Linked DNA regions of Homo sapiens: region 1 is linked to region 2. The links come from fine-mapping of genetic effects on plasma protein levels. A gene starts in region 2. The other region holds a variant in brackets. All regions are shown on one strand. Distances are between the middles of the regions. Region 1 overlaps BANK1 (B cell scaffold protein with ankyrin repeats 1). Region 2 holds the start of BANK1 (B cell scaffold protein with ankyrin repeats 1).

Evidence for each region. PIP is the posterior inclusion probability: the model's chance that the variant is causal. The UK Biobank Pharma Proteomics Project read protein levels with antibody pairs (Olink). The fine-mapping took linkage between variants from a reference panel, not from the people measured, so its PIPs are less certain.
Region 1: its variant is fine-mapped to the plasma level of the BANK1 protein (UK Biobank, PIP above 0.99). The variant lies in the coding sequence of BANK1. If it changes the protein, the assay may bind it differently, which can mimic a change of level.

The regions. Positions count from the first base shown.
Region 1 is chr4:102,041,799-102,046,203 of GRCh38, reverse strand. BANK1 (B cell scaffold protein with ankyrin repeats 1) reads right to left here. Exons shown (of 17, transcript NM_017935.5): 11 at 2,297-2,365. Among named protein-coding and RNA genes, the nearest start is that of BANK1, 250 kb to the right of the region's middle. The variant A/G (reference allele first, on the strand shown) is at 2,318.
Region 2 is chr4:101,788,740-101,793,144 of GRCh38, reverse strand. BANK1 (B cell scaffold protein with ankyrin repeats 1) reads right to left here and starts at 2,415. Exons shown (of 17, transcript NM_017935.5): 1 at 2,195-2,415. The coding sequence starts at 2,264. RefSeq lists a silencer at 2,139-2,328.

The DNA.
Region 1 (4,405 bases), 250 kb before region 2:
AGGGAATCCTTTCCCCATTGCTTGTTTTTCTCAGGTTTCTCAAAGATCAGATAGTTGTAGATATGCGGCGTTATTTCTGAGGGCTCTGTTCTGTTCCATTGATCTATATCTCTGTTTTGGTACCAGTACCATGCTGTTTTGGTTACTGTAGCCTTGTAGTATAGTTTGAAGTCAGGTAGCGTGATGCCTCCAGCTTTGTTCTTTTGGCTTAGGATTGACTTGGCAATGCGGGCTCTTTTTTGGTTCCATATGAACTTTAAAGTAGTTTTTTCCAATTCTGTGAAGAAAGTCATTGGTAGCTTGATGGGGATGGCATTGAATGTATAAATTACCTTGGGCAGTACGGCCATTTTCACGATATTGATTCTTCCTACCCATGAGCATGAAATGTTCTTCCATTTGTTTGTATCCTCTTTTATTTCCTTGAGCAGTGGTTTGTAGTTCTCCTTGAAGAGGTCCTTCACATCCCTTGTAAGTTGGATTCCTAGGTATTTTATTCTCTTTGAAGCAATTGTGAATGGGAGTTCACTCATGATTTGGCTCTCTGTTTGTCTGATGTTGGTGTATAAGAATGCTTGTGATTTTTGTACATTGATTTTGTATCCTGAGACTTTGCTGAAGCTGCTTATCAGCTTAAGGAGATTTTGGGCTGAGACAATGGGGTTTTCTAGATATACAATCATGTCGTCTGCAAACAGGGACAATTTGACTTCCTCTTTTTCCCAATTGAATACCCTTTATTTCCTTCTCCTGCCTCATTGCCTTGGCCAGAACTTCCAACACTATGTTGAATAGGAGTGGTGAGAGAGGGCATCCCTGTCTTGTGCCAGTTTTCAAAGGGAATGCTTCCAGTTTTTGCCCATTCAGTATGATATTGGCTGTGGGTTTGTCATAGATACGCTCTTATTATTTTGAGATATGTCCCATCAATACCTAATTTACTGAGATTTTTTAGCATGAAGCGTTGTTGAATTTTGTCAAAGGCTTTTTCTGCAAATATTGAGATAATCAAGATGGATTAAAGGCTTAAACGTTAGACCTAAAACCATAAAAACCCTAGAAGAAAACCTAGGCATTACCATTCAGGACATAGGCATGGGCAAGGACTTCATGTATAAAACACCAAAGCAATGGCAACAAAAGCCAAAATTGACAAATGGGATCTAATTAAACTAAAGAGCTTCTGCACAGCAAAAGAAACTACCATCAGAGTGAACAGGCAACCTACAAAATGGGAGAAAATTTTCGCAACCTACTCATCTGACAAAGGGCTAATATCCAGAATCTACAATGAACTCAAACAAATTTACAAGAAAAAAACAAACAACCCCATCAAAAAGTGGGCGAAGGACATGAACAGACACTTCTCAAAAGAAGACATTTATGCAGCCAAAAAACACATGAAAAAATGCTCACCATCACTGGCCATCAGAGAAATGCAAATCAAAACCACAATGAGATACCATCTCACACCAGTTAGAATGGCAATCATTAAAAAGTCAGGAAACAACAGGTGCTGGAGAGGATGTGGAGAAATAGGAACACTTTTACACTGTTGGTGGGACTGTAAACTAGTTCAACCATTGTGGAAGTCAGTGTGGCGATTCCTCAGGGATCTAGAACTGGAAATACCATTTGACCCAGCCATCCCATTACTGGGTATATACCCAAAGGACTATAAATCATGCTGCTATAAAGACACATGCACACGTATGTTTATTGCGGCATTATTCACAATAGCAAAGACTTGGAACCAACCCAAATGTCCAACAATGATAGACTGGATTAAGAAAATGTGGCACATACACACAGTGGAATACTATGCAGCCATAAAAAATGATGAGTTCATATCCTCTGTAGGGACATGGATGAAATTGGAAATCATCATTCTCAGTAAACTGTCGCAAGAACAAAAAACCAAACACCGCATGTTCTCACTCATAGGTGGGAATTGAACAATGAGATCACATGGACACAGGAAGGGGAATATCACACTCTGGGGACTGTTGTGGGGTGAGGGGAGTGGGGAGGGATAGCATCGGGAGATATACCTAATGCTAGATGACAAGTTAGTGGGTGCAGCACACCAGTATGGCACATGTATACATATGTAACTAACTTGCACAATGTGCACATGTACCCTAAAACTTAAAGTATAATAATAATAAAAAAAAGAGTAAGATTTATAAAGCACACAATTACATACTTCTGTCCTAGGAGGCTTTACTCTGTATTCATAAGATTTCTTGATATTTTACCTAGAGATTACTAAATAGATTGAAGTTAGTGTTAGTACCTTGTTTCTTAGGAAGACCAC[A/G]GAACTTGTCATCATCAGATTGTCTTCTGGCTGTCTTTTGTTGAAACACTGTAAAAAGTATAGAACATATTATTTACTGAACATAAACGTTCAAAAAATCCATACTGTAGAAGTCTCCAGGAAGCCAGAATGCAATATATCATTTTCCTGAGTATCAGTTCCTGAATTGTATTACTTTTGAGTAGGAAGATTATCAAATTTACAATTTTCTCATTTGTGCAGCTTATCAGTCATTTCAGAAAGCATTTTCATTGAGCAGAGTAGTATAATGCTGATGCAATGCCTCATTAAACTATTTAAATCAAGATATGATTCCATTTTGATATCAGGTAAGAATAAAAGCTGCATTGTGTTAAAAGCGATAAATGTTAAAATCATATGAAAAATTCCATTTGCACAGAAATTACCCATGCTGACTTTTTGATGATAAGCAAGGATAATGACTGTTTCTCCTTAAATAGGTAAAAAGACTCTTGTATTTCAGAGATGTAATAATAAAAAAGACACTTTATTCTTGCATCATCTATCTAGACCGCAGACTTATTAAAACAGCTTATTCGAATTACTTCATTATCTGAAAAGTGCTTTGTTCTCATTTATTATTTCTCACACGAAATTCTGGGAGACAAGTCAGCATTACTCACCCCATTTTGCAGATGAAAGATAAAGTTGATTGTTTGATATTTATTGAGGACCCACAAAGTTCCATATAGCTTCTGGCATTTGTTAATAAAAAAGTCCAGACTCTTTACAACTTTACTTTAGAAAATGAACATCCCAGAGTTACATTTATTTTTTATGGGCAGTGTGAATTACAGGGTTTGGGAACTGGAAAAGGCTTTGGAGATTTAGTCCAACCTCATATGTTTATAGATGAGGGAGTTGGAAGTAACTAGCTTGTAAAAAGGCTAAGTAATTTTGCAATGATCTCAGAGTTGTTGTTAGCAGAGATGTGATTTAAACCGAGAAGCCTTGAACTTCAATCTATTGCGTGGTTCCTTACAGCACTACTGCCACTTCCCCTCCATAACTATTATCTTATAAAGGTAAAGAAGGAGATAGAGGGAGAGGATTAAAAGGGAAATTAGAACATTTCCAACACAGTTGTATCTCTTGTTCCTTTTAGCAGTTCGACAGAATTTCCTGGGATAATTGAGCTGAGGCCTGTGGGAGTGAACGTGTTTTAACTGGATGGTGCTGGACCACTGTGATTGGCAGAAACATCCCGACAGTTATCCTAGATTTCTGTCTTTGGTTTTTATATTATTTAAACCAATATAAGATCAAGGACATATCTGTGATTAACCCCGGAGACGTTTTTTAGATGAAAATTTCCCCCCATCTGATCAAAAATTAGTAATTAAAAATGTATGATTTGCCAGATGCTGTCAAGACAAAGAGTACTCCCTTCAACTGTGCTCTTTTAAACAGAAGAGGCAAAATATGTTTCAAAGTTTGACGTGTTTGAGAAAAAGTATACACATAAAATCATATTTTTGGTTGAAAACCAGTTTTCTGCTTCAAGTTAGTACATGGAAAACATGCTAAATATAACTAACTGGCAAGTTCTGGGTTTGTGGCTTACTTACATTTTTTCTAAAATAAAATATATTGAGGAATATATAATGTATGACTATACGTTAGGATATTAAAATAAATGTTGTAAGAGGTACTTGATTTTTTTCTATTTGCTAGTTTTAAAAGTCTTTAAAATGCAATGCTTTAAAAATTTTAATAACGTGGTCTCTATGCTTTTTTGCCAATATTGTTAAGATATAACTGAGAATGGTTAAGAGGAAAAAGCTGGCGTCATTCATATGGGAAATGACCTGAATCCAAAGATCTATTCAGATAATAAATTCTTCAAATAAAAATTACATTAATTGATAAGTTTTTAAAATTCTGCTGAGGTTTGAAGCTACAAAGTACTTGGAAATGAAATTATTTTTCCAGCTTTTTGGCATTAATTTGTTACAAATCACTTTACACCTTATATGTTACTGGAATCCTTTTTGCTGATAACAAATGCTCAGCCTGTGTGAAATAACAGTAAATGTTAAACAAATAAATGCTGTCTTTCAGTTACTA
Region 2 (4,405 bases):
TTTCTGTTCTTAAGCAAATCATTTATTAAAGTTTCATCAGATGCATCCAATAATATCAATAAAAATTTAAAAAAAACTATGGTGTGGAGAAAAATCTGTGATTTAATAAATAATCACTCCCTAATTAAAACAGCAGTTAAAATTAAATTTTTAAAATCATTAGTTTTGGAATACAACAGGAAGAATCTCTCTTTTGGACATTGATAGTAATATATAGTTAAATACAAACCAGAAAATACATTCTAACTAGAACTTTCACCCATTGTGCATCATTTTTACCTTGTTTTAGAGAACTGGGTATTCTATTTTTCTTGCTTCCATTAAAGAACAAGTCGATACTCAACAGTTAATAAATCTCTGATGGCAGTATACACTAATGTTGTCTAGCAGTACATTCTATCTCCTGCTAGAAATATACCTTCCTGGGCATGAAACTGTGTTTACCATTTTACATTCTTATTACTACTACATGACTCTTGGCAGGGAATAAAAGTTTGTTAAGTTAATGAATGGGTGACCTTCAAATAATTACTAGTTATGAAACCATGAGCAACTCACACTCTGGATCTCAGTGCTCTCTTCTCTAAATGAGGCAGTTGGACCAATTGACCCCCAATGTGCCATATTAAGATAGTTGTTGGAGAGAGAGGGAGCTCTTCATTAAAAAAAAAAAAACACACACACACACACACACACACACACAAACCACTGGATTTATAAAAGCTAGAAGATTACTCATATCAAGAATATGGGCATGGGATAATGTCAAAAGACAATTCGTTTTTAGAAAAGTTTCATTATGTTGGCCAGAAAAGGAAGTAACTGAAGCAAGTGATAAATACTGCATGGAGAAGGACCCAAGGAGTTGGGAGGGGCGGGGCGGGGGGGGAGCGGAATGCATGGGAGGAACAAGAATAATTGGAATGCTATAAATATTGATTCACATTACTCTTGCATTATTCACAATAGCAAGTGCCTCAAAGTATTGCTTAGTATCAAGTGAAATAAAAGGCATTTTCTGCCTAAACTGTTTAATCTAGAAGTTTGAAACAAACTGTACCCCATTCTCTAACAAAATTGTTAAACTGAAATTACAAAAGAGGTAACCTGCTCAAAGTTTGAAAGACATGGTTGGTTTATTTATAGATGCTAGCAAAGTCTGCTCTGCTGAAGACCATCAGAGCCACAGTTTTCAAGAATGTCAATATGCAATAGTTAAAATATTAATAATATTAAGTTATGGGCTCTAAGTCCTTTCTTGTCACTTTTCATTGACACAAATATACTTCTTATTTAACTGAAAGCAATCCCTAAAGCTTATTTATGTAAAAATGCACTAGCCAACAGAAATAGCTACAACCAAAATTACATTACCTAAAAAATTCTAGAAAGGTATGAGAAATTTATTTCTATTCAGCAAATTAAGAAACTTTCACTCAGAATATACTTTCTTGTTGCATTTCTCACCACGAACACTCCAGTAATATTAATACCTAAGTGAAGTTTTTTAATTTAAAAAACATTTTTATATCACTGAGTAATTTGCAAATGCATTTGAAATGCTTCAAAAAGAACTAAATAAAACTGCCTTAACGTCCATTTGAAAATATAAATCTACTTCTGCATTCAACCAAGTTGACCGTTTTCCTTTGACCAAGTTAGTAAAGCCAGTGGAGTAGGGAGGTGGTGTTGGTAGAGTTTCTCTGCAAAGCCACCTGCCAAGAAGCAGGGCTACCAATTCACCAGGCTGGGATTTGTCAGGCCGGGCAGGTAAATGCGTGACGCTACACATGAGCGGTTTTTCTGTGCTTACCGACTGTTGAAAATAATTACGTATAATTTTAAACGCGCATTGCTTTAAAACAGGTTGCAAAGTGATTTTAGAAACTACAGGACCCTGACCCGGGTGCTGGGGAAAGTTCCAGCTCCTCAGAAGTTGCAGACACTGAGGGTAGCCCGCTGGCCAGAACTCCCAGCGCGCTCCCTCCTCGTGGCGTCCAGATGCCCCTCAGAGAAGTCAGGGACAGAAGAACCCTCTGGGCTGCCTGGCGGCAGGATAAAAAGGAGAAGCCCTGTCTCAGGGACGCCCTGGCCTCAGTGCCCGAGTGCAGTTGTCTAACGATGGCCCGTGGTCTCCGCAGAGCCCCGTAGCCCGGCCTCGGCGTCAAGCCCCTCCGAATGCGCGACTACCCACCTGGGGGCGCTGGGCCGCAGGGGGCGGGGTCCGGGCTCCCAAGCCCCTTGCCTGGCGCTGCTGGCAGCATTGTGGCGGTTGAAGCCGAGGGGCCTGCGCACTGCTGCCCGCCGAGCGCTACCTGGACTCTCCCGGCCAGAGACTCCCCGCGATTTTCTCTTCCTTTGGCCCTCGGCTCTCCCCAGCCCGCTTGCCACCCGCGGAGGCTGCGGCCAGGTCTCAGGAAACGCAGCCCCGGGGCTCATGCCCGCAAGGCCAGGGCTCCGCTCTGCTGGGCGCCCAGAGGAAGTGAAACTGCTCAGGGGCCTGCTCTTACATCCCTTCTCAAAAGGCCGCTTTGGTTTCTTATAACACTTCTGCGCCTGTTTCCTTCCTCACCTTTTCATCCTAGGATATATTTAGACCGCTGTTATTGTAGCTCTCCTTGTCCCTTTCTAGGTCTTCCATACTGCCATACTGCCCCCACTTCCAGGCAGACGTAGGGAAACCAGAAGTGAACATTTGCTGGAAAGAAAGAATAATTAGATAGATAGATGAGTAGGTACACAGATGATAGATACATACATATAGAAATGAAGATACAGATAATACTGTAACTTTTAAAATATTTCATTTTACACAGACTTTCTAGGCTAGGTTCATAAATTGAAAAGTGATTTAAAATTCCATATAAAATGTATTTCTTACTCCTGCTCCAACTCAAAAATAGACCCAGTAAAAAATTATTTATGGCTCTAAATACCCTCTCCAAACAAGAGTTTGTTTGCTTGTTTTTAAGATGGAGATATATCAAAGGAGTTGTCCCAGAACCTTAAAGTGAATGTCTCTCTCTCAAGCATGTCTAAACTAGTCATTTGCCTTTTGAAGTTGAATATATTTTTTGAATATCAATTTGGTAATAATACATAGTTTAAATGTTCCTCTCCTCTTCCTATAAAAGGAAGGCTTTCTTTGAAACTTTCTCTCGGATGAAGTGCTTTTTAGTAATAATATAAATATCAAGTATCAAAAAAAGTTAATTTTTTCACATAAATGAACTTATTAGAACTTTATAACATAATGTAGAAAACTTGGAGAAGTATGCGAAATGTCCAAAAAACTTGAAAACAATTATAGATTGTATTGTATTTATCTGGTTTCCAGTAGTTTCTTTAACATCATTATTAATTTTATGTTGATTTTCTGAACTTTATATAATGGAACAAAAGATTTCATCTAACTTATGAAATATTATATTGAAAAAAATGGTTGTCTTCTATATATGCCTGTTAACAGAGAGACTTCAGTGTAATAGGCAAAAACAAATTTGGATTGCAGGGTTTGGGTGTTGTTCAGTGTTTCAGAAACTCAATTCTTAGGAAAGTATGTCTTAAACCCATTGGAGAAAAGAATATTCTAACTGATGCATCTGCTGGTATACGTATTCCTGACAAGAGCTACTTTAGCCAACATGAACACTCCAGATGATGCTCCCCAATTAAGTATCCAGATCTTCAAAGGCACCCATTTATGCACACGAAAACTTGTTAATAAAGACAGTGTTCAGATAGGAACTTGTATCTGTCACATATACAGGACAGCCTTCTTGTATGAAGAGCCCTGGATTGGAAGTCAGAAGGTTGCAGCTGCCATCCTGACTCTGCTCCACAATATCTGGGTGTTTGGAGCAATTCTTAATATTTCTGAGCCTTGCGTATCTCATCTAATTTATTCATTATTAATGAATAAATTAAAATTACTGTATTCGAGTTTCTGCCAGATATAAAATGTTATAACACTGTCTCCTAATAAAACTATAGAAAATAAGATTTATAATATGAAAATTAAGTATATTTTCAGAAGCTCATTTCCACTACTTATGTCAAATGATGCTAGTAAATAGAAAAAAGAAAGTAAAAACTGCTGAAAATTGTGGGCTGTTTTTTTTTTAAAAAAAATAAGATTATGTGTTAGAAAATCTTTAAAATCTCCCATTAAAATTATTCTAGCTTCACTTTTCTTTTGAATAAGAAAATAGCCATTGACTACCCCATTGACTGACTTATTTATTCTTTTGTTTTACTGTTTGCAGTCAACAACTACTCTTTTTTTAAGTATTCTATATCCTATGTTCTATGTAAGAGTTTCACAATATTCATGTCATTTGGTTCTCAAAACAAGGAAGGTTTAACCATATTTTACAAATGAAGAATCTGGGCGTTGAAAACTGTA